Regions from separate parts of the Homo sapiens genome. Here region 2 is linked to region 1. The links come from fine-mapping of genetic effects on gene expression. A gene starts in region 1. The other region holds a variant in brackets. All regions are shown on one strand. Distances are from middle to middle.

Region 1 (12,160 bases):
AGGAGGCGGAGATTGCAGTGAGCCGAGATTGCGACATTGCACTCCAGCCTGGGCAACAGGAGCGAAACTCTGTCTCAAAAAATAAAATAAAATAAAATAAAATAAATAAAATAAGATAAAATAAATAATAAAAATTAGCCAGGCATGGTGGTGCGTTCCTGTAATCCCAGCTACTCAGGAGGCTGAGGCAGGAGAATCGCTTGAACCTGGGAGGCAGAGGTTGCAGTCAGCCAAGATCGTGCCACTGCACTCCAGCCTGGGCGACAGAGCCAGACTCCATCTCAAAAAAAAGAAAAAAAAAATTAGCCAGGCGTGGTGGTGCGTGCCTGTAATCCCAGCTACTGGGGAGGCTGAGGCAAGAGAATCACTTGAACCCAGGAGGTGGAGTTGCAGTGAACCAAGATGGCGCCACTGCACTCCAGCCTGGGTGATGGAGTGAGACGCTGTCTTGAAAAAAAAAAAAATAGGCTTTTGAGACAGAAACTACCACCCCATCTTGAAAATCAGTTATTCTTTTTTGCTTTTATTTTTCCCCTCCTTTCCTTTTATGCTGGGTTTTTAATAATGGTTAACTAGTGCTTGGCATAAAGAACTCCAGGAAGTGGCCTTGAAAAACTAAGCAGGGAATCAAGGTTGCAGCATGTCCAGCCCTGGGAAGAATGCTGAGTGCCTCCTGTATTCCTGTTGCACCCGAACCAGTGCCAGCCAGACCACCAGATGGCCCACTGCTCAAGACTGTCAATGAGACCAGACACACTGACCCACCTCGAGTCAACCTGTGCATAGCTTCCATATATCCCCTCTCATAACCACCCCCTCTCATAACCAACCCCCACCGGCTGGGCGCGGTGGTTCATGCCTGTAATCCAGCACTTTGAGAGGCCGAAGTGGGGGGCTGCTGGTTGTAGGGGCATCACTTGAGCTCAGGAGTTTCAGGCCAGCCTAGGGAACATAGCAAGACCCCATCTCTACAAAAAAAATCAAAAAGTGAGCCAGGTTGGTGGCACGTGCCTGTAGTTCCAGCTATTTCAGAGGCTGACATGGGAGGATCGCTTGAGCCTGGGAGATCAAGGCTGCAGTGAACTATAACTGTGCCACTGTACTCCAGCCTGGATAACAGAGTGAGAGCTTGTCTCAAAAAAACCCAGCCAGCCTGAAAATTTTGAGATGAGACTTTCAGACATTAGTCTGCCATCTCCTCGGTTTGCTGGCTCTCCGAATAAACCTGCTTTCCTCCTACCAACTCTTTTTTTTTTTTTTTTTTTTGAGACAGAGTCTCATTCTGTCGCCCAGTCTGGAGTGCAGTGGCATGATCTCGGCTCACTGCAACCTCCACCTCCCGGATTCAAGCGATTCTCTTGCCTCAGCACCCCCGAGTAGCTGGAATTACAGACGTGAGCCACCATGCCCATCTAATTTTTGTATTTTTAGTAGAGACGGTTTCGCCATGTTGGCCAGGCTGGTCTTGAACTCCTGACCTCAGGTGATCCACCCATCCTGGCTTCCTAAAGTGCTGGGATTACAGGCATGAGCCACCGTGCTCAGCCCCCAACTCTCGTCTCGTGTTTAGCATTTGGGCAGTGAGCAGCTGAGCCTGGATTTGGCTATGCTTTCCCTCTAGCGTCAGGAGGGCCAAGAAAGACACCGTAGTTGAACTTTGATAGAAGAGCAGGAGGTGGGCTTGGGGATGTTAGAGGGAAGGGAGTTCCAGGGGACAAGAATGACACGAGGAAAGGCATGGAGATATAAAAATGCAGGGAATAACGGGATAGGAGTAGAAGGTGCGTGGGAATAGGTGGCATGCCCTAAAGTGGAAAGCCAGGTTAGGAAATTGGGGCTTTACCCCATAAGCAATGGGAAACCAGGGAAATTTTCTGATCAGGGGCTGGCCTGGTTATATCAATGCTTTAAAAATTTGGCCAGGCACAGTGGCTCACACCTGTAATCCCAGCACTTTTGGGAGGCCAAGGCAGGTGGATTGCTTGAGGTCAGGAGTTCAAGACCAGCGTGGGCAACATGGTGAAACCCTGTCTCTACAAAAAATACAAAAAAATTAGATGGGTGAGATGGCACATGCCTGTGGTCCCAGCTACTTGGGAGGCTGAAGTGGGAGGATCGCTTGAACCTGGGAGGTGGAGGTTGCAGTGAGTGGAGATTGTGCCACTGCACTCCAGCCTGGGTGACAGAGCAAGGCGCCATCTCAAAAAAAAAAAAAAAAAAAAAAGGGTGGGGGGCACTGGGTAGGAGACTGCATAGGAAGTTCCTTCATGATTCAGATGACTCACTTTGGGTAGCCCATAAGTGGTCATGAATGTAATGAGCTTGAAATCACTGATCAGTGAGAGGAATTGCCATATGTGTGTGCCTGTGTCCATCTTTAGAGCTGCAGACAGATTTGAGTGGTGCGCCATTCACTCATTCATTCCTATAACACATAATTACTGAGCGCCTACCATGTGCCAGGTGCCGTGGAGCCACTGGAGAACCAGCAGTGAACACACAACAGACAAAACTCCCTGCCTTCACAGTTTGCTTTGTTCTTTATGCCTGGGTAAAACGGGTGCAGGAATATGCCATTTATTCATTCTGATTTTTTTGTTTGTTTGTTTTTGAGACAGAGTCTTGCTCTGTCTCCCAGGCTGGAGTGCAGTGGCACGATCTTGGCTCACTCCAACCTCCGCCTCCCAGGTTCAACCATACTTGTTGCCTCAGCCCCCAGAGTAGCTGGGATTACAGGCACATGCTACCACACCTGGCTAATTTTTATATTTTTATTTTTTATTTTTATGTATTTATTTATGTATTTTTGAGATGGAGTTTCGCTCTTATTGCCCAGGCTGGAGTGTAATGGCATGATCTCGGCTTACTGCAACCTCCGCCTCCCAGGTTCAAGCAATTCTCCTGCCTCAGCCTCCCTAGTGCCTGGGATTACAGGCATGTGCCACTACGCCTGGCTAATTTCATATATTTAGTAGAGACAGGGTTTCTCCACGTTGGTCAGGCTGGTCTCGAACTCCCCACCTCAGGTGATCCACCTGCCTCAGCCTCCCAAAGTGCTAGGATTACAGGCATGAGCCACTGCGCCCGGCAGGTCACATTTGTTTTGGGGGCAATCACATTAAGGACTGGGGAGGAAGACATATGTAAAGGAAAGGGGCTTTGTTCAAGTGGGAAGACCAGAGAGAGAAGGCTGTGCTGACGGCCCAGGTGAAAGACAGTGAGGGCCTAGACTGACCTGAGGTGGTGGGGACAGGAGAGGGCCTAGAGACGGCTCTGGGTGTCACAGTTGAGAGAGGAGCTATAAGAGCATGCTTTTACAAGAATGGGTTGTGAGCCAGGTGCAGTGGTGTGCCCCTGTAGTCCCAGCCACTCAGGAGGATGAGGTAGGAAGACTGAGCCCAGGAGTTTGAGTCCAGGCTGGGCAACAGAGTAAGACCCCATCTCTTAAAAAAGAAGAAGAAGAAGAAGGAGAAGGAGAAGGAAAAAAGAAAGAAGAAAGAGAAGGAAGAAGAAGAAGAGGAAGAGGAAGAAGAGGAAGAGGAAGAAGAGGAAGAGGAAGAAGAGGAAGAGGAAGAAGAAGAAGAAAAGAAGAAGAAGAAGAAGAAGAAGAAGAAGAAGAAGAAAGAAGAGGAAGAGGAAGAGGAAGAGGAAGAGGAAGAAGAAGAAGAAGAAGAAGAAGAAGAAGAAGAAGAAGAAGAAGAAGAAGAAGAAGAAGAAAGAAGAAAAGAAGAATGGGCTTTGCAATCAAAAGATACAAACAAGGTCAGACACAGTGGCTTATGCCTATAATACCAGCACTTGGGAAGCCGAGGTGAGAGCCCAGGAGGCTAGGACCAATCTCGTCTCTGCAAAAAAAAGAAAAAAAGAAAGTTAAATTAGGGCCAGGCACAGTGGCTCACACCTGCAGTCCCAGCACTTTGGGAAGCCAAGGCGGGTGGATCATTTGAGGTCAGGAGTTCCAGACCAGCCTGGCCAACATGGCGAAACCCTGTCTCTACTAAAAATATAAAAATTAGCCAGGCATGGTGGCAGGCACCTGTAATCACAGCTACTTGGGAGGTTGAGGCAGGAGAATCACTTGAACCCAGGAGGCGGAGATTGCAGTGAGCCAAGATCGCGCCATTGCACTCCAGCCTGGGTGACAGAGCGAGACTCTCTCTCAAAAAAAGAAAGAAAGAAAGAAAGAAAATTAGCTGGACACAGTGGTGTACACCTGTAGTCCCAGCTACTCAGGAGGCTGAGATGGGAGGATTGCTTGAGCCCAGGAGGTCAAGGCTGCTGTGAGGTGTGATTGCACCACTGCACTCCAGCCTGGGGAACAGAGTGAGACCCTGTCTCTGGAAAAAAAAAAAAAAAAGCAAACAAGACCCCAGCCCTGCCCTTTATTAACCTTGTGAACTTGGATATGTTATGTGACCATGCAAAGCCTCAGTGTCCTTGTCTATACACTTGGGATCTTAGCAGTGGCTACTGTGAGGTTGGGAGGTTTCTGGGAGCTACCAGCATAGTGAATGCAACACGTTGGATGCCCAGAACGTGCTGGCATTATAATGGCGGGGAGGCAAGGACAGCTTTCTGTGCTTTGAGTGGCTGGGTGGATGGAGATGACGCCATCTCTGAGGGAGAACACAGGAAGGAACACTTTGGGGACAGCCACCTCCTTGAGGTCCCCACGTCAGCGCTAGCCATGCCCACTGTAGTCATGGATCTACTCATGGCTCTGGTGGCATCTTCAATCTCTGTCTTCTTGGTGCCCAGCTCAGAGCTTAGGCATATAGTAGGGGCTGTCTTACAGGGGGAGGATCTGGCTCGCAGGTACAGATGTGGGCACTGCAGACACGGAGGTGCAGAAAGATGCAGGTAAAGAAGGAAGAGAATGCCAGGCATGGTGGCCCAGGCCTGTAATCTCAGCACTTTGGGAGGCTGAGGCAGGAGGATCGCTTGACCCTAGGAGTTCAAAACCAGCCTGGACAACATAGTGAGACCCTGTCTCTACAAAAAATAAAATTAGCCAGGTGTGGTGGCGCGTGCCTGTAGTCCCAGCTACTCAGGAGGCTGAGGTGGGAGGATCACTTGAGCCTGGGACGTTGAGGCTGCAGTGAGCCGAGATTGCACCACTGTACTCTAGCCTGGGCAACAGAATGAGACCCTAACTCAAAAAAAAAAAAAAAGAGAGAATGGACGGAGCCCAGGGAACCCTGAGGTTGAAGGGCTGTGGGAAAAAAGGTAAGGACCTGGAAAGAGGCTGGGAGACAACACTCACAGATCAGGTTGGGGGGTAGGTGGGCGGAGCACCACAGACAGGAGGGTTTCAGGAAGAGGGGCTCATCAGGGTCACATGCTGCTGAGAGGTCAGGGATGGTAAGGCCCGACTGGCGGTGTGGGATGAGGGTTTATCAGACACAGATTTGGCACCAAGGAGGTCACTGGGTACCTGGCAAGAGAATGCCGGGTGCGGTGGCCCAGGCATGGAATCCCAGCACTTTGGGAGGCTGAGGCAGGAGGATCGATTGAGAGTCAAGACCTGTCCCATTGGGGACCGGCGCCCCATTGCAGGGGGTGGGAGGAGCTGGTGTGGTGTAAGGATGGGGAGAGGAGAGGTGGGCATCAGAACAGGAGGTCACTCAGACCCTCAGGGGCACCTGATTTCCCCTCCCACTAAGGACAAATTTCATGTTCAACAGTCAGAGCCATCTGCAGATGGGCCAAGAGGTCCTGGGAGGTAGTGAGCACCCTGTCCCTGGAGGCAGACAAGCAGAGCTCCGAGACCCACCGCGGCGGGAGAGGCCCAGGCTGTGCAACACAAGCCCCGTGTCCTTCTCAGCAAGCACCTGGCTGGTTCCCTGCATCGTAAAAACCACACAGAGGGTCGGTCTTTCTATTTATAGTGTCCAAAGAGCCTCCTGCAAGAACACACATGGGCTCGCACCCAGAGGTGGTCGGCGCGCAGCCTCACGCAGACACCAGACACAAAACACAGCCGCGATCTGTGTCTCCTGGAAAGGGATCCACATCCTGGCTCCCAGGTTATTCCCTGAATTCATTCCGTCACCCCCTCTTTCCGCCGGGCCACCCCACCCCCCGGGCCACCCTAGCATCTCCGCTTGGCTCTCCGCATCTCTCCCTGCTCCTCGGGCTCTGCCCACCCCCACCCGCCTCCAGGCCTCTCCCGCCCCCTCCTCGGGTGTCCCCCAAGCCCGTGACTACAACCCCCAGGCGCCCCCGGCCCGGGTGCTGCGCATGCCCCCTGCTCCTTGCGCGCTCCCGCTCCCCCCGCCCTCGCTTCCTCCTCACCTCCCTCCGCCCCCCTCCCCCGCGCTCGGCTCCCGCATCCCTCCATCCTACCCTGTGCCGCAGCCGCATCGCCACCGCAGCCCGGCAGAGCCGAGCCCGGCCCAGGCCCCTGCCCCTGCCCGGCCCTCGGCCAGTCGCCCCCGGCCCCGCCCCCGCCCGCAGGCCCCCCGCAGCGGCCGCGGCGCCCCCCGGCGCCCCCAGACCCCGGCCTCCGGCACAGAGGCGGGAGACCCGGAGCAGCAGCAGAGGCAGGAGGACTAGGAGGAGGAGGAGGAGCCGTCGCAGGATGAAGGATCGGACTCAAGAGCTGCGGAGTGTGAGCTTGGGGGTGGGGAGAATGGGGGGGCGGGACCCCAATATTGGGGGAGCGCGTGGGGATGGAGTGGGGGAGGTGCTGGGACGTGGGGGCGAAGGATGAGATCGGAGGTTGGTAGCCGGAGCACCCCAGTATCTTCAGGCGCCTGATGTCTCTCCAGTGAACCTGCATTTTGGGGACAGTGCCTGGAAGGGGTTGGAGGCCATGAAGACACAAGGGGGCAGGAGAGGTCTCAGGGGCCTCGAACACCCCGCATTCCCAGGAGGGCCCCGGGGTCTGGTCTGGGGATGGGAGAGAGTGGATATCAGGAGAAACCGGAGGAGACTGTCATCCCCTGGGCAGGTTTGCCAAAGAGAAGCATGGGGGCGGTGACTGGGCCAGGCTGAGAGTCTAGCAGGACCCAGATTCAGGGGATGCTACGGGGAAGGACACAGGTTGGGACTGAGATGCCAGCACCTGGCAGTGAATGAAGTGTGTGTGTGTGTGCACACGCGTGTGTCACTCCCTATAGGGAGGGGGCATCTCTCCGAGACAGGGAGGGAAGAGGTGGCCTCCGGAGAGAGCCAGAGGGCCAGGGCCTGAGACAGGGTGACCCAGAGGTGGGAGATGGGGATGCAGAGGAGAGGGCCATGGAACACGGGCCGTGCTCTGCTTGGGGGAACTGGGGCACCCCGGGCAGTCAAGGGCTGATGCAGGCCCCAGGTCTGCAGGCCTGAAGAGGCCCGGCTCCAAGAGTCTGGCCAGGCAGTCCCTGGTTTTGGGGGGACAGGGGAAGGACTGCAGTGGAGGCTGCTACCTGGAGGAACTGGGGAGTGGGGTTCGATGAGAATGGTTTCAGGGGCAGGGAGGACGCTGGGGTATTTGGAGAAATGACCTGGGGCCCGAGGAGGCAGCACTGACAGTCCGCACTGTGCTGGGCTGGTGGTGTTATGTTAATAAGGGTACCGGCCCCGGCTGAGCTGCCCAATGCACTGAGCCTTTACAGGGAACTGGTGGGTTGTTACCCCAGGGGTTATTACCCCACTTGACAGATGAGGAAACTGAGATTCAGGCGTGGGAAGGGACTTGTCCAAGGTCACCAAGCAAGTGGGTGGGGGGCAGACTGCAATCTGGGTTTCCTGTCTGCTAGGTTGACACAGGTCTCTGCTTTTCTGGCCTTTGAAACAGAAGTTTCAGCACTGGGGGTGAAGAGCTGTCCCCTGGATTTGGGGGTGGGGACCCAGGTTACAGACAGACGAGAAGAAGGTGTTTGGAGGCAAGTGACCGCTGTCTCTGGGGACAGACAGGTTGCCAAATGGGAAGCAAGGAGGAGCTGGTGGCTGAGGGAGGGAATTTTAAAGGTTTCTTTATTACATTTTTACTGAATATACACTCAGGCATGAGGAAAGTGACAGTAATAATAAACATTGTTTGAAGTGTTTTATGCATATTCACTCATTTTGATCCTCACAGCAATCCTATGAGACTGGTTATCTCATTTCATAGATATATAAATATCTTTTTAGATATATAGATATATGTTATCTCATTTTATAGATAAGGACACTAAGCTCAGAGAGGTTAAGTAATTAGACCAAAGTCACACAGCTGGTAAAGGCAGGATTCAAACCCAGGCAGGCCGGCTTCAGCATCGGTGCTGTCAATTCCCCTCCTCAGTTTGCAGAGCAGGCTTTCATCCGTGATGTCATTAGAGCCCCACTGACCTCCTGGCAAGTGGACGGGGAGGCTCTTTCATTTTAGAGTTGGGGAAACTGAGGCCCAGAGTGGTTGAATAACTTTCCAAAGGTCACACAGCTAGCAGGTGAGGGATCCGGACTTGAACCCAGTTCCCCTGCTACCAGGACTATTCCATGACTCCAAAACCCAGGGAAATGGAAGTGGGTTGGGATCAGGTGGTGTGGAATTGGGGTACAATTCGAGAAAGAGGGAGGGAAAAGGCTAAGCGGGGTAAGGGGGAGGCAGGGGAGGGGGAGGCCTCATGAATGAGTCAGGGGCCCCTGCTCAGAGGTAAGGAATCCTGTTGGCTGTGGCTGCCGGAGGTGGTGTGGAAGGGTGAAGGGGCTGAGTGGATGTGGTGGCTTTGGTATTAGTCACAGCTCAGGGAAACTGGAGATTCAAGAGGGGGCGGGCGGGGTGGGAAAAGCTGACAGATTCAGGTAGCGTAAGGGTCTCCCTGCTACAGTTGAAAGCAAGGAGCCTGGGATGCAGGAGACACCTGGCAGGGTGTGGGGGACCTGGAAACGGGGTCTCTGAGACACTGGGAGGGATGAGGCAGGGGCGGTGGTGGGAGGGGACATTAGCCCAGGGGACTGATTGTCTTTCCAACAGTACCTTGGCATTCCCAAGGGGTTCTCAAGTCCGTTTGTCACACAGTGGTTTCGGGAGCCAGACTGTCTGGGTTCAAATTCTAATTTTGCTACTTCCTGTGAGACCTTGGGCAAGTTGCTTAACCTCTCTGGTCCTCAATTTCTTCGCGTATGAGTTGGGAGAAGTAAGAGTGCCTGTTTCACAGGGTTGTCCTGAGGACTGGAAGTAGTTAATATGCATCAGGTGCCTAGGAGGGGGCCTGGCGCCCAGCAGTGCTGTGTGTCTGTTACCCAGCAGATGGCTTGTTTATTTCTCTTCAACACCACACAAGCCCCCTGCGATGGGCAGGACATGGCCCCTATTTTATTTTGGAGTACATTGAGGGCCAGAGGGGGTAAAAAAAACCTGACTTGTCCAAGGTCAGATAGCTTTTAATGGTTGAGGTGGGCTTGAACCAGGGTTTTCTGCGTCCAGTTTACCAGGCAACCTTGGTTGGTGCTAGGCTGGTTGTGGAGGCTGTGAAAAGGAGTTAATCAGCTAAATAGGTGTCCCAGGGTCTAAGGAGTGAAGCCAGAGTGGGGCTCCAGAGGAAAGAGCAGAGTGAGTGAGGTGGAGAGGAAGGTGGGTTATGGGAGAAGACAGGAGGGGCACAGGGAGGGCTGAGGTCTGAGACGCAGCTGTGGAGTCGGGTGGGAGAAGTGCGGAGACACCCTGGGAGGAAGGTGGGGCCTGCACTGCAGGAGCCTGAATCTGAGGCTGGACAGGATGAAGGCTGCTGAGGGACCGCCCCGTGCCCCAAAGGCCCTCAGGTATGAGGCAGGCACAGTAGGTGCTTTAGAAACGCAGCCCTGAAATCACAGGGTGCAGAGACCAACGAACCCTGGGTGATGGATCCATATCCTCCAGCTGCTCTGGGCTGCCTTTATTTATATTTAAAAAAATGTTTTTAGAGACATGGTCTTCCTCTGTCACCTAGGCTGGAGTGCAGCGGTGCAATCACAGCTCACTGCAGCCTTGACCTCCTGGTCTCCAGGGATCCTCCTGCCACAGCCTCTCGAGTAGCTGGGATTACAGATGCGCACCACCATGCCTGGCTAATTCTTTTTGCTTTTGTAGAGATGGGGTCTATGTTGACCAGACTGGTCTTGAACTCCTGGCCTCAAATGATCCTCCCGCCACGCCCTCCCAAAGTGCTGGTATTCCAGGCATGAGCCACCGCGCTCGGCTGGCACTGGGCTTCTTTCTGCTATCCAAACACACAAGTTTACCCCTGTCCAAGGACCTTCGCGCATGCTGTTCCCTCTGCCCAGCATGCTGTTCCCTCTGCCCTGAATTCTGTTTCCCCAGCACTGTGGCACAGTTGGCTCCTTCAGGACCTAGCTCAGATGTCACCTCCCCAGAAAAGCCCTGCTAACTGTCCTGTAGAAATCCTTCCACAATCCCCCCCAATTCCCATGTCTCTCAATTCCATCTTTCTGCTTATCTCCCTCCTGCTATTCAGCACAATCTGAAATGGTCTTGTTCACCTCCCATTGTCTGCCTCCCCCACTGGAATGCCAGCTCCCTGGAGGCAGGCCCTCCTCGCCTGTCTTCTTCACCACCACATCGCCAGCAGCACCCAGAAGAGTACCTGGCACAAATCAGACACATCCGTTAGATGAATGAATGACTCCATGAAGCAGAGGGAGGATGAGAAAGGGGCAGGGGGTAAGGCAGGAAAGATGGAGGAGAGAGGTCAGGGTGAGAGGGCCAGGCTGCTCAGGGGGAGGGAGCAAGGAGAGGCCCCAGCCAGGGAGACAGATGGACTGAAGCAGAGGGTGGGGGAAAGGGCGCAGGGGGAGGCTGCTGCCTCCGATCAAACGATGATGCTTGCACCCCTGAGGAGCATGGGAAGCCCGTGTGTGTCAGTGCTGGGGCACGCATATGTTTACACACACACACGTACACACACGCACACTCTCTCTGACTTTTCTGTCACCCAATTCCAGTCTCTTGCCGCCTCTGTGTTTTTGTCACCGTCTCACCATCTGTCTCTCTGGTCACTGACTTGCTGGCTCTCACTGTCACTCTCCTCCTTCCGCTTCTGTATCTGTCCTTGCCGTCGCTCCACATCGACATACACACAAGGCCCGTGGTGGCTCTGGTGTGGAAGACCTGGACTTAGGGGGCCCCTGAGGAGGTCAGGCTGCAGCTGGAGGCTTGGATCTGATGTGCGCAGTCCCCAGGTGCTTCTGGAAGGGGCTCAGGGGCACTGCACTCTCTCATTCAATCCCTCTCAAGTGCTCAAGGAGCTGTGCGCTGTAGAGCAGAGTGCCTGAGTTTGAGTCATCCCATCAGCTGTGTGATCTTGGGCAAGTTACCCAATCTCTCTGCGCCTCCACCTCCTCATCTGTCCAGTGAGAATAAGAATATGACCTCATGGAGTGGTCGTGAGGATTAAACAAGAGATGCAGGCTGGGTGCAGTGGCTCACACCTGTCATCCCAGCGCTTTGGGAGGCCAAGGAGAGAGGATCTCTTGAGCCCAGGAGTTCGAGACCAGCCTGGGCAATATAGTGAGATCCCATCTCTCAAAAAAAAAAAAAAAAAAAGGAAAAAGAAAAAAAAAGAAATGCAAAGCACTTGTAATAGGACCCAACTCGTGGTAATCAGCACATATATGTTACATCCTCGATTTGCACATGAGGCAACTGAGGCTTGAATCGTTCACCTGTAACCTGAGGCCACCATAAAGTAGACTGGGGCACATTTGATCATCTTTTCCTAGGTAGTCTGGTTTGCCCACAGCCTGCTTTCTTTTTGGCTGGCCTAACTTCTTCCAGAAATGGATGCTGTACTCATTACTAAATATGCATCACTCAGAGCACGGAGGGCCCTTCAGAGCAGGGTGGGCACTTGCACCAGTCTGCTCATTTCAGTGATGAGGGAACTGGGGCCCAGGGAGGAGTCTAAGTTTGCCTGGGGTCACACAGCAAGACAGACGGAGGCTGGGAGGGATGGCCTCCTGTCCAAGCTCTTCCTGCAGCCCTGGGCCCCTCCTACTGATTTTCTGTCCTGGCTGCAGGAGTTCAGCAGTCCTGAGGACATGGCAGAGTGGGCTTTTTAGGACCAGGAGGGACTGCCATCTGTCAGCAGGACAGAAGGGAGAGAGCCTGACATTTAGTGCCAGACAGTCCTGGGTTCAGGTCCTACCTCTGGCCTCATTTGCTGTGAAGCTTTAGGCAGGTCAGGCAACCTCTCTGAGC
Region 2 (12,160 bases), 24 kb before region 1:
CATCCCTATCCACTGCATCCAAAGTGACAGCCTCAATTAGGCATTTTTTCATGGTGCCTCTTCCTCTGGGCCACAAGAAGGCCCACTGATGCCACCCAAACCCCCATCTCACCTGCGTCCCAGCCTGGCCTGGTCAGCCTCATCATTTCCAAGACAGATACTCACAGTGGTCCTTTCCCGGGGACAGTACTGAGCCAGGAGCTAGATGCCGGTGTTACCCCTCCCTGCCCACCCATTCCTATGGGGGTGCAGAAAGGCAGAACCAGCCTGCTGTGGGCACAGCACCCCTGGCAGTTTGACCTGAGCAGCCAGGGCCAGACCTGGCCCTGGGGACGTCCAGGAGGTAAGGAGGTTGGATGCCCGGAAGCCTTGGGCCAGCCCTTCCAGGAACACACGTGCACAGGGCTTTCTATGCTCTTTTTTTGTTTTTTAATTTTTTACAAAACCGTGTGTCCCGGCCAATCAGGACAGTGCAGGCCTCCCCCAGGCATTGAGGCCTGAAGGAGGAGGCCATCATGAATGAGCAGCTGCCAACCCCAGAAGAACTGTCTGCCCTTCTGCATAGGGGCCAGTGTGAGGAAGGGGTCCGACTGGAGGCTCTGCCCTGCCCCCCAGGCTGCTGGGAGAGAAGGCCAGGCCCTGGGTTCCTGGTGCTCCTAGTGCCTGTAAGGAAAGGAGGGAGAACAGGGTCTGAGGGAGGAGGGAGGGCTGGGGCCAGGGCTGGGGCAGGCCAGGGGGCAGCCCACAACATCTCACCAACAATGTGCGACATTATCCAACCACTGTGACGCCAATGATGACTGCTAGGAGGACGACGGTGATGGACACACAGATGGCAATCAAGACTTTCTTCTGTGGGAGAGGAGGGGGTCAGGGAAGTCACACAGGGTGCCTGGGGCAGTGGCCGGGCCTGGGAGGCTCACCTTCCTCGCCTTCTTCTGGTTCTCCAGGGCCGTCTTGACGTGCTCCTGCCCACGTTCCACGTAGTCCGCTGAGCTCAGGATGTTCTTCTCAATCCGATTGATCATCTCCCCCTGCTCAGAGGATGGGGTGGTTCAGGGAGGTAAGGATGCCTTTGCCCACCCCACCCCAGATGACTGAAGAACATTCCTGGCAGGAAAAAAAAATTGCACTAACAAAGACAAGGGCAAGACTTGATCTGACAAAAGTTCAGACTCCTTGGGGATGGCTTCCAGGCCCCTTCTATCATGTAGTCCCTTGTCCCCTGCTCACTTATCCCATACAACCTCTATCTGCAGTGGTAGCTTGGAGCTAAGGGCCTCAAATGGCTCATACCTTTCACAGATGGTGAACTGTGCCTTCACAAATCTGTCTGAATTTACCCATTCTTCCAGGCCTATCTACAGCTGCTGCAAAGCCCTCCCTATCCCTGCCTCCTCCTGGCACCACCAGCCTCAGGTCTCAGTACTCCTACTGAATGAGATCTCTTTCCTGTAAGTCTCAGCTGCAAAAGGGCATTGGCTGTAGCATGACTGAGGCCAGCTCCTCCAGGACAGGGCTGGAAGCTCAACTCAACTCACAACCAGGGCCAGGGGAACGCCGCCCCCACCCCAGCCTTGTACAGATGTTAGGAGGCAGCCCCTCTAGGGCAACTCTGACTGGACCTCTGAGAGGTATAAGGGTGGATGCTGTTAGTGGAGGGGGAGTGAGGGCTGGGGCCAGACCTGGGCAGGCTCAAGTTTTGGAGAGGGGGCAGGGTGCTATGCAGAAGGGAGTGGGCATCTGTGTAGCAGCAGAGGCAGGTGCCATTCTCGGGGTACAGCTAAGGATAGGAATAAGCACCAATCTGGGGGCATGGCCAAACCTGGAAGACACAAAAGCCTCAGGGAGAGAATCTAAGGGTGGCGGGAGGCTGGCAGTTTGGACTGAGCCTGGTCTCACGTCTGGGGCTGCGCGGGGCACCCACCTGCATCTCCACTTCGGTAGCCAGAAAAGTGAATATGTCGTGCAGCTCACGAATACTGCGTTCAAGCTGCTGGATCTCACTGTGCCGGGCCGAGATCTCATTTAAGGCCTGTCGAGTCACCTGCGTGTCCTTCAGGATCTGGGGGGTGGACAGGAGTGGGGCAACTGTTCACAGGGAGACCGACAGCAGGTCAGAAACTCCTGTTGAGCTTCTGGGGAGCCCTCAGCCTGGAATCTGATGGGTGACTCCAGGCAGGCTAATTAATTCCCTTAGAGGCCTCAGGGTGCCCTTAATCAGAAAGGGCCACAGCAAGCGGGGTGCAGTGGCTTGCACCTATAGTCCCAGCTACTCGGGAGGCTGAGGCAGGAGGATCACCTGAGCCCAGGAGGTCGAGAAACGGACAGGACTCAGAGGGGATGGGAGGCACAGCAGAGAGGGGCTGGCTGTGGCCACTCACATTGGACACAAACACCTCGCTTTGCCCACTGTCCAGCATCTGCTCCAACTCCTCATCAGACACCATCCCAGCATTGGCTGTGAAGGAAAAGGCCAGGCTCAGGGTTGGGTTGGGATTACCTGCCCCTGCGGGCCAGGCTGGGCATGCACAACTCACTGATCTTCAGCTGCCTCCGAATCCGCTCCACGTTCTTCTCCCGGTATTCGGACTGCATTGAATTGCACTTGTTGATGAGCTCCACGAATTGCTGGGACAGGACCCCATGCTAAAGATGAAGAATATAGGCTGAGTGCCCCTGGGAGGATCCCTGCCCGGTCGGTGCCTCGGCAACCCCATAGTACAGTGAGCAAATAGCATGAGCTCTTATGCGGGATCTGCCACCTTAACCACCTTGTGATGACCTTGACAGGCTCCCCCATTTCTCTTAGACTAAAAGCCAAAGCCCTTATCAGGCCTATGTGGTCCTCCATGATCTTTTTTATTTATTTATTTATTTATTTATTTATTTATTTATTTATTATTTGTTTTTTGAGACAGAGTTTCACTCTTGTTGCCCAGGCTGGAGTGCAGTGGCACAATCTCGGCTCACTGCAACCTTGGCCTCCCGGGTTCAAGCAATTCTCTTGCCTCAGCCTCCCGAGTAGCTGGGACTACAGGCACGCGCCACCACGCACGGCTAATTTTTGTATTTTTAGTAGAGATGGGGTTTCACCATGTTGGCCAGGATGGTCTTGATCTCTTGACCTTGTGATCCACCTGCCTCGGCCTCCATTACAGGCGTGAGCCACTGCACCTGGCCTATTTTTATTTTTAATAGAGACAGGGTTGGCCGGGCACGGTGGCTCATGCCTGTGATCCCAGCACTTTGGGAGGCTGAGGCAGGTGGATCACCTGAGGTCAGGAGGTCAAGACCAGCCTGGCCAACGTGGTGAAACCCCATCTCTACTAAAAGTACAGAAATTAGCTTGGTGCAGTGGTGGGCGCCTGTAGTCCCAGCTACTTGGGAGGCTGAAGCAAGAGAATGGCTTGAACCCAGGAGGCGGAGGTTGCAGTGAGCAGAGATGGCACCACTGTACTCCAGCCTGGGCAACAGAGTGAGACCCTGTCTCAAAGGAAAAAAAAAAAAGGGGGGGGGGTCTCACTATATTGCCCAGGCTGGTCTCAAACTCCTGGGCTCAACCAATCCTCCCACCTCAGCCTCCAAAGTGCTGGGATTACAGGCGTGAGCCACGGTGCCTGGCTAGCCCTCTATGATCTCTCCTTCTCCCATGACCTCTCTGATCTTACTTCCTCTTACTGTTCCCTTCCTCTGCCCATCCACACTGGTCTCCTTACCCCTCCCTAGACAAAGCACACTCTCAGCTTAAGCCTTTGCATTCACTTTTCCTTCTACCTAGAATGCTCATTCCCAGCAAACACCTTTAAGTCTCTTGTTCAGATGTTACCTTCTGAATGAAGCTTCCTCCACCTGCTTTCAACTGCAACTCTACCTCCTCCAGCATGCTTAGTCCCTCTTCCCCTGCTCTTTTTTCCTTAATGCTTATTATGTTCTAAATAATTCACTTATTTATTATGGTGATTGTCTACACCAGAAGGGAAGTTCCATGAGGACAGGGATCACTGGTTCACTGCTGTATCCTAAACAGTTCCAAAAAGGTCTGGCACACAGTAGGCACCCAATATGTAACTGCTGAATGCTTGCTGAATGCCAACCTCGCTGCCTACACCACAGCTCCTACGCCTAGAGATGAACATGTTGCCTGGGCGAAACAGGTGCAACAGGCCCACATGGACCCTCAACCACTCATGCCAATCACCACCACAGGCTTCCCCAGAAACACTGGTTCTGGGGCATCTGCTCTGCCTTGCCCCTTCTTCTGAGGCCTTAAATATGCTCATTCCTTGGAGTTCCTTTTCCAGAGATACATCTGCTTTCCTGGTTCCAGCTTCACCCTTCCAAGATGCCCAAGCTGCTCCATCTTCAATCTGGGGTCCCTGCTGAGCCCTGGGCCCAACTACTCCAACCCTGACCTCCTGGTATCCTCCTCACTGGGGACCCAGAGAGGGCCAGTCAGATCACTGCAAATCTCCTTACTAAGATATCACCCCAGGGGCCGCGCGCGGTGGCTCATGCCTATAATCATAGCACTTTGCGAGGCCAAAGCAGGTGGATCAGTTGAGATCAGGAGTTCGAGACCAGCCTGGCCAACAAGGTGAAACCTCATTTCTACCAAAAATATAAAAAATTAGCCAGGTGTGGTGGTGCACACCTGTAATCCCAGCTACTCGTGAGGCTGAGGCAGGAGAATCGCTTGAAGGAGGTGGAGGTTGCAGTGAGCCAAGATTGTGCCACTGTACTCCAGCCTGAGGGACAGAGTGAGACTCCATCTCAAAAAAATAATAATAATTAAAAAAATAAGATATCACACCAGGGGAGTTCCTCTTCAGTGTTGCCCCAAGGAAGTTCCTCTTCCTGACTTCTTGAATTCCACCTGTGGGACTAAGGATGTCCCTGTCACATAGATAGGAAACCTGCCAGTCATTTATGACTTCTCACTCTCCTTCCCTGGGCAGCGCCGTTAGCCACCAGGTCCCACGTGAGTAATGTCTTTATCCCCTATTGAACCCTAACTCCTCATCTTGACTCCCAGAAAACATGTGTCCCAGCTGGGCATGGTGGCTCACGCCTGTAATTCAGCACTTTGGGAGGCCGAGGCAGGAGGGTCACCTGAGGTCAGGAGTTCGAAACCAGCCTGGCCAACATGGTGAAGCCCAGTCTCTACTAAAACTACAAAAATTAGCTGGGCATGGGGGTGTCCGCCTGTAATCCCAGCTATTCAGGAGGCTGAGGCAAAAAAAGAAAAGAAAACATGTGTCCCACAGCCAAGACTAGGTCTTGTCTGGGGTCACAGTAACTTCCTATTGAATGGAAGAAAATAAAGCAGGGTGTTATAACCGGACTGAGCATCAGGAGACCTGGCTTCCTGACCTTGAGCAAGTTCTTTCTCTCTCTGAGCTCAGTTTCCCCATTTGGAAAAGTCATCCAATTGGACTCCATGATCTCTGCAGGCCCTTCCTTCATACACCTGTCATCTAATACTTCATGAAACATTTGCTGAAATGTCCTCATTTCTGAGAAAAAAAACCCACCTGGGTTTTTCTCATTCTTGTGTTGACGGAGTTATAGTTCTCATCAGCTTCCTCCTTCTGGGGCTCTATGGCTGTGGGAAGACACAGGGGTATTGGGGGTACTTGTCTCCATAGGATTTTTAGGGAAATATAATTTATCATAAAATGACTAAGGCTGAGCCTCTAAGAGGAGAAAGTAAGTTTATTTTTCTTTGCATTACATCACTGAGTTCCCATAGGTATGCAGAGGCCACCTAACAAAACTCCATCTCCCTGCCCAAAGAATGCCCAGTGGGCAGCGATAACTGTGTAAGTAAATGGTTTCATTGTAAATAAAAGAACCTGAGAGGCGGACTTGTGCTGTGGAGAGTACAATGGCCTGGAGGCCAGGAGACAGATGCTAGACCCAGGCCTGCTGTGTGACCTGGATATATCACTGGCTTCTCTGGGCCACACACTCCCCAGATATACCAACAACAGGGCAGGATCAGAGGGAAGGATCTGTCTGAGGTCCCAGGAGCTCACCCTTCAGCTGCAGGCGGATCTCCCTCCCCAGCTGTTTGATCTCATCGCGCAGGTTCTGCAGCTCCTGCTTCATGCCTGAATAAGAGAAGGCCAAGACTCCCAAACAGCAGCCCCCACCTCAACAAACCACTCTGGCCACCACCTGCGTGGAACTACAACCCCCACAATCCCTGGGGCGGAGCATGCGCCCTGCAGCCGGGGTTTCACTCACTCTCCTCGGGAAGGGGCGTGGCCAGGATGGTGACCTGCTGTTTCTCCAACTCCTGGACTTTATTCCCCAGTTTGACAATAGTCTGCCGAATTGTCCGGACCTGGGGAGGGTGACCGAGAGGGCTGAAAGAGATATGGGGTACTCCAGACCACGCTACTCCTCGGGTCCTCCTACACCCTCGCGAATCCAGGCGGAGACCCCAGCCCCTTACCTTGTGGAAGAACTCCTCGTCCGGGCTCCCCAGCCGTGCCGTGCCCGGGTGCACCACCAGCGCGACCCGCTCCTTGTCCTCTTCGTCCGAGCTGTCATCCCCCTGCCAGGCCCGGAGTCATTGGCACCACCGTTTCGCTGCGGCTCTTACCCCGCAGGACCCACAGGCTTCCGGGACTTTCCTTCCTGGCCATCAGCCACCCCTCCCTATCCCGAAGACCAGAAGTCCTGCGTTCCAGTTCGTCCGCCCGTCCCCATCCCCGCTGCCCTGGCGTCTCACCTGTCTCAGCTCGTGGGTCCTGTCCCGCATGGCGGCCTGAGCTCTCCCTCCCCGGCGCCAGAGCCGGGAGGCCCTCAAATTTGGAATTCCCGTACCCCGCTCACACTCTGACACTCCCCTCCCTCCCCCTGCGGACCCCAACACCCCCACGAGCCGCCAGAGGCTCCGTCCCTTGCACCGCCCACAGTCAATGGGAAGGCGCCGACCCCGGGGACCCCCCAAGGTTCCACAGGTTGGAATTCCCTTTTCTTCCCCGCTCCAGCTCCCGCAGCCTCAGCCCCGCCCCTCCGTGATAAATTCGGGGCATGCGCACATGGTCGCGTCTCTTCCTTGCCCGAGGCTGGGAAGGTGGAGTCGGAAGTTGTTGCGCCCCGAGCGGAAGCGGAGATGCCTGGACGCGAGAACTTGCTACCGTCACCGGAACCGTTGCATCTTCCAACGGAAATCTGGTTGCCAAAAGGGGTAGGAATACG[T/C]CATTTGTACGTAATCCGAGACACCCGCATCTCACATCACCCCATGGTGCCCCCACCGCGTCACGTGACCAGCCCGGTCCCAAACTCGTGGACCGCAGAATGTGACCCTGTGACTGTCACGTGTCCCGGCTCTGTCACCGCCGTCTCTGGGACGCCGTTCTCATCACGACGTCCCCGGCACCCCAACGACCGAGCGACGCCCACACGGCCCCCGCGAGGTGGGGAGGGGCGCGCCGACCACCCCCAGAGGCCTTTCGAGGCAGTGGGTGGTAGGACCCTTGCTGACCTCGCCTTTATTGCTTTCGGGTCCAGGGCGTGGGCGGACTGACGACTTAGCATTTGGGGCTGTCAGCATCATGGGACCTTGAAAATCGGGAAATAATAGGATCCGAGTCGTCAGCGTCAGAAAATTGCAGGGTTGTGTGGGCAGGGAATCTGGGGGTGGGAAGTGACCTCAGCCAAGGCAGAAATCTCTTCTTCCGCATCCTTCTGGCGCAGCCTCTGACAGGTGGGCGGCCAGCCGGCGCCCTCCTTGAACACTGCAGCCCGGCTGCACTCACCACCTTGTGAGCCGTCAGACCATGTCAGGGCAGCTCAGGCTAAGAAAAGTGTTTGTATTGATCACGCTGCCTCCCTGCCACTCACACCCCCCAGCCCCTGCCTTGCATCTGAGGCCAGGTAATGACTTTGTTCTTAACTGAATCTGGGGAGTTCCTAGCCCAGTACCAAGAACATTACGGGCCCTCTATAAATACTTGTGGACAGAATTTCAGGCTTTCATGTATCTGAGGATAAAGCCCCTGGTTCCTTGGTCTTCTTTAGGCTTCAGGCTTTCTGACTGTGACACTTCTCTAATCCTGGCTATCTAGATATTCACTCATTTTTTATTTTTAAAAATTTTTACGAGATGCGGTCTCACTATGTTGTCCAAGCTGGTCTCTAACTCCTGGGCTTAAGCAATCCTTCTGCCTCAGCTTCCCAAAGTGCTGGGATTACAGGCATGCACCACCATGCACAGCAACATTCAGTCATTTAATGGATATTTTTTGGGCACATAGTATGGGCCAAACACTGTTCTAGGGCTGGAGATACATCAAGGACTAATAGACAAAAATTCCTGCACTCGTGGAACTTATATTCTCTAGAAGGAGTCCCCAAGGTCACTCAGCAAGTCTCAGCATAGCCGGGAATGAATAACAGGTCTCCTGGACCCCAGGGCTCTGTCCAGGAAGCTTCTGTGAAGGTACAAGCAAGGAAAGGAATGGACCCTTTCTGCTATGCCCTGGTCAGGAAACCTAGATTCCTGGGACTGAGTTGCTATGGACTTCTGGAAATCGCTTCCTGTCTCTAAGTGTGGATCTCCCTCTGCACAGTGGGTAACTGTAGGGGGATGGGGAGATCATCTTTATGGGTATCGGCTGCTCTAAACTTCAGTGATGATGAGGTTGGAAACTGTCAAGTGCTGTGTGATTCTATGTGAGGAGTTTTGGCTCTTCTCCTCTTCCTGTTAAAACCCAGCTCAGGCAGGGTGTGGTGGCTCATGCCTGTAATCCCAGCACTTTGGGAGGCTGAGGCAGGCAGATCACCTGAGGCCAGGAGTTGGAGACCAGCCTGGCCAACATGGCGAAACCCTGTCTCTACAAACATACAAAAATTAGCCAGGCATGATGGCAGGTGCCTGTAATCCCAGCTACTTGGGAGGCTGAGACAGGAGGATTGCTTGAACATGGGAGGTGGAGGTTACAGTGAGCTGAGATCACGCCATTGCACTCCAGCCTAGGTGACAGAGTAAGACTCTGTCTCAAAAACAAAACAAAACAAAAAAAAAAAACCCAGCTAGTAGGAGAGTGGTGCCCTGATGAACCCACAGAGGGAATGCAGGGTTTTTCCGGAGGCCAAGCCCTGCCCAGTGGTGTCCCCTGGAGATGATAAGGAAAGATTCTCTGCTCCTGGGTCTTTCATGTCAGCCTCTGCCTCTTCAGTCACTGCTGCTTGCCTCCTGCATCTTTTGTCCCCTGCCACCCGACCCCCTTCCCCCTCCTACTCTGTGTCTCTGAGTGGCACACGGTGGAAGGGCTCTTGGACCCCTGACTCATAGTCCTGCATGGGATCTTAAATAATGCATTACTTCTCTCTGGGACTCAATTTCCCCATTTGGCGGCTTGGTCCTATAATTTCTGCCTTGCCTAAGGTAGGACTTGAACACTATCAAGTGAGGTTAGGAAGGATGTGGAAGGGGCTGGAAAACTGTTGAGGGTACCCTCCCCTCTGGGCTTTTTTTTTTTTTTTTTTTTCTTCTCTTTGAGGTCAGGTCTGGTTCTGTCATCCAGGCTGGAGTGCAGTGGTGTGCTCTCAGGTTCAGTCAATCCTCCTGCCTCAGCCTCCCAAGTAGCTGGTACTAAGGCACGCACCACCATGCCTGGCTAATTTTTGTATATTTTTTGGTAGAGACTGGGTTTCGCCATGTTGCCCAGGCTGTTCTCAAACCCCTGGGCTCAAGTGATCCACCCACCTTGGCCTCCCAAAGTGCTGGGATTACAGGTGTGAGCCACTGTGCCCAGCCTCTCTGAGCTTTTAATACTGTGGGTTCCAGCGTCTTCTGGGCCCCCTGGTCCCATCTTCCTCTTTGTTTCTCAGCGTCTTGATGGCATGCCATCTTGGTCCACTAAACTTCTCAGGATTATAATATTATTTCACTTGTGGTCTCTGGGTGAGATCGCAGGGCTTTGGAATGGTGACTTAAGGTCACAGGAAGCTGGACTCCAAGCCTTGTGGTGGAATATGGAGAGGAAAGAGGCCATTTAGAGAGATTGGCGCTGGGGGTGGAGCTCTCCAGAGCTGAGCCCTTTGTTCCTCTCAGGCCCTCTGAGCAGCCTTGACGGGGATATTAACTATATTAGGCTAGGTGCAGTGGCTCATGCCTGTGATCCCAGCACTTTAGGAGGCCAAGGGTGTATCACTTGAAGCCAGGAGTTCGAGAGCAGCCTGGGCAACATAGCGTCTGTCTCTACAAAAAAAATCTTAATTACCCAGGTGTGCTGGCGCTCTCCTGTAGTCCCAGCTACTCAGGAGGCTGAGGCAGGAGGATCACTTGAGTCCCTGAGGTCAAGGGTACAGTCAGCAGTGATCTTGCCACTGCACTCCAGCCCGGGTGACAGAGTGAGATCCTGTATAAAAAAAAAAAAAAAAAAAAGTAGGGTGGGTGCAGTGGTTCACGCCTGTAATCCTAGCACTTTGGGAGGCTGAGGCAGGAGAATCCTTTGAGCCCAGGACTTGAGACCAGCCTGGGCAACATGCCAAGACCTTATCTCTGTTTTTGTTGTTGTTGTTTGTTTGTTTGTTTGTTTTGAGACGTAGTCTCGCTCTGTCTCCCAGACTGGAGTGCAGTGGCACGATCTCAGCTCACTGCAGCATCCGCCTCCTGAGTTCAAACAATTCTGCCTCAGCCTCCCAAGTAGCTGAGATTACAGGTGCACACCACCGCGCCCAGCTCATTTTTGTATTTTTAGCAGAGATGGGGTTTCACCATATTGGCCAGGCTGGTCTCGAACTCCTGACCTCGTGATCCTCCCGCCTCGTGATCTGCCTGCCTCGGCCTCCCGAAGTGCTGGGGTTACAGGCATGAGCCACTGTGCCCAGCCTAAGACCTCATCTCTAATTAGATTTTTAAAAAATAATTAAAAATAAATAAATAGAAGTAAAAATAAAGTTTAAAAAAGTGTATTGGGTCTTGGGTGTGTGGGTGGTGGGCGTGTATATTCGCTCCAGACTGTGCAGCTGTTGGGGGGTGGGGTGTGTTTCTTAACTTCTACACTATGATCCAAGGAAAATACCAGCTGGGGTGGCTTCCCGTGTTCCACCCACCCTTGGGGGCTTGCTGTCACCTATTGCTTTGGACTGTCTTGGGGGAGGAGTGGGTGGACTGCCGGCCCCACTAAGCCTTCTCCCGCCCCTGTCACAGGTCCTCTCCCACACCTGCTAGGTTGGAGCCAACTACTGGAGAGGTTGTTGATCCTGTCTTGCTCTACCCAGTCCTGAGGCTTGGCAATTTGTCTTGTCCCCTCTACCTGTGGGTCCAGACCTATCCACATGGGAGCCAGATGACCTGGGTTGGAATCCCAGCCCATTCACCCACTGTAATAACTCTAGGAGGCAAGTTATATAACCTTTCTATACCTCAGTTCTCATTTTTTTTTGTTTTTGTTTTTGTTTTTGTTTTTTTGGTTGTTGTTGTTTTTTGAGACAGAGTCTCTCCAGGTCACCAGGCTAGAATGCAGTGGTGTGATTTTGGCTCACCGCAGCCTCCACATCCTGGGTTCAGGTGATTCTCCTGCCTCAGCTTCCCGAGTAGCTGGGATTACAGGTGCCCACCACCAAGCCGGCTAATTTTATATTTTTAGTAGAAATGGGGCTTCTCCATGTTGGTCAGGCTGGTCTCAAACTCCCGACCTCAGGTGATCCACCCGCCTTGGCCTCCCAGAATGCTGGGATTATAGGCATGAGCCACCGTTCCCGGCCCTCACCAAGGCTGGCAGATCACCTGAAGTCCGGGGTTCGAGACCAGCCTGACCAACATGGAGAAACCCCGTCTCTCCTAAAAATACAAAATTAGCCGGGCGTGGTGGCACATGCCTGTAATCCCAGCTACTTGAGAGGCTGAGTCAGGAGAATCGCCTGAACCTGGGAGGCGGAAGTTGCAGTGAGCCAAGACTGCGCCATTGTACGCTGGGGGCAACAAGAGCGAAACTCCATCTCAAAAAAAAGAAACAGAAAAATCCAAATAATAATAGCACCATATTCATAGGACTGCTGTAAAGATGAAGTGATATTTGTAAAGCAAACAGAACAGCACCTGGTGTGGAATGTCAGTATGTCAGTGCTTCCTGCTGTTGTATGACGGCGATGATTGTTACTCTGAATCTTTTAGCAGCTCTAATGTCTCTGCTAG

Evidence for each region. PIP is the estimated chance that this variant, and not a neighbour inherited with it, causes the effect.
Region 2: its variant is fine-mapped to the expression of STX1B in tibial nerve (GTEx, PIP 0.94).

Annotation. Positions count from the first base shown.
Region 1 is chr16:31,004,817-31,016,976 of GRCh38, reverse strand. STX1B (syntaxin 1B) reads left to right here and starts at 6,339. Exons shown (of 10, transcript NM_052874.5): 1 at 6,339-6,610. The coding sequence starts at 6,581. RefSeq lists an enhancer at 5,802-6,303.
Region 2 is chr16:31,028,415-31,040,574 of GRCh38, reverse strand. It overlaps STX4 (syntaxin 4), which reads right to left and starts at 7,017. Exons shown (of 11, transcript NM_004604.5): 1 at 6,740-7,017; 2 at 6,461-6,562; 3 at 6,250-6,349; 4 at 6,039-6,113; 5 at 5,535-5,605; 6 at 2,541-2,649; 7 at 2,385-2,461; 8 at 1,928-2,065; 9 at 924-1,034; 10 at 757-852; 11 at 411-663. The coding sequence starts at 6,769. The coding sequence ends at 772. RefSeq lists enhancers at 6,159-6,669, 7,182-7,693. The variant T/C (reference allele first, on the strand shown) is at 7,213.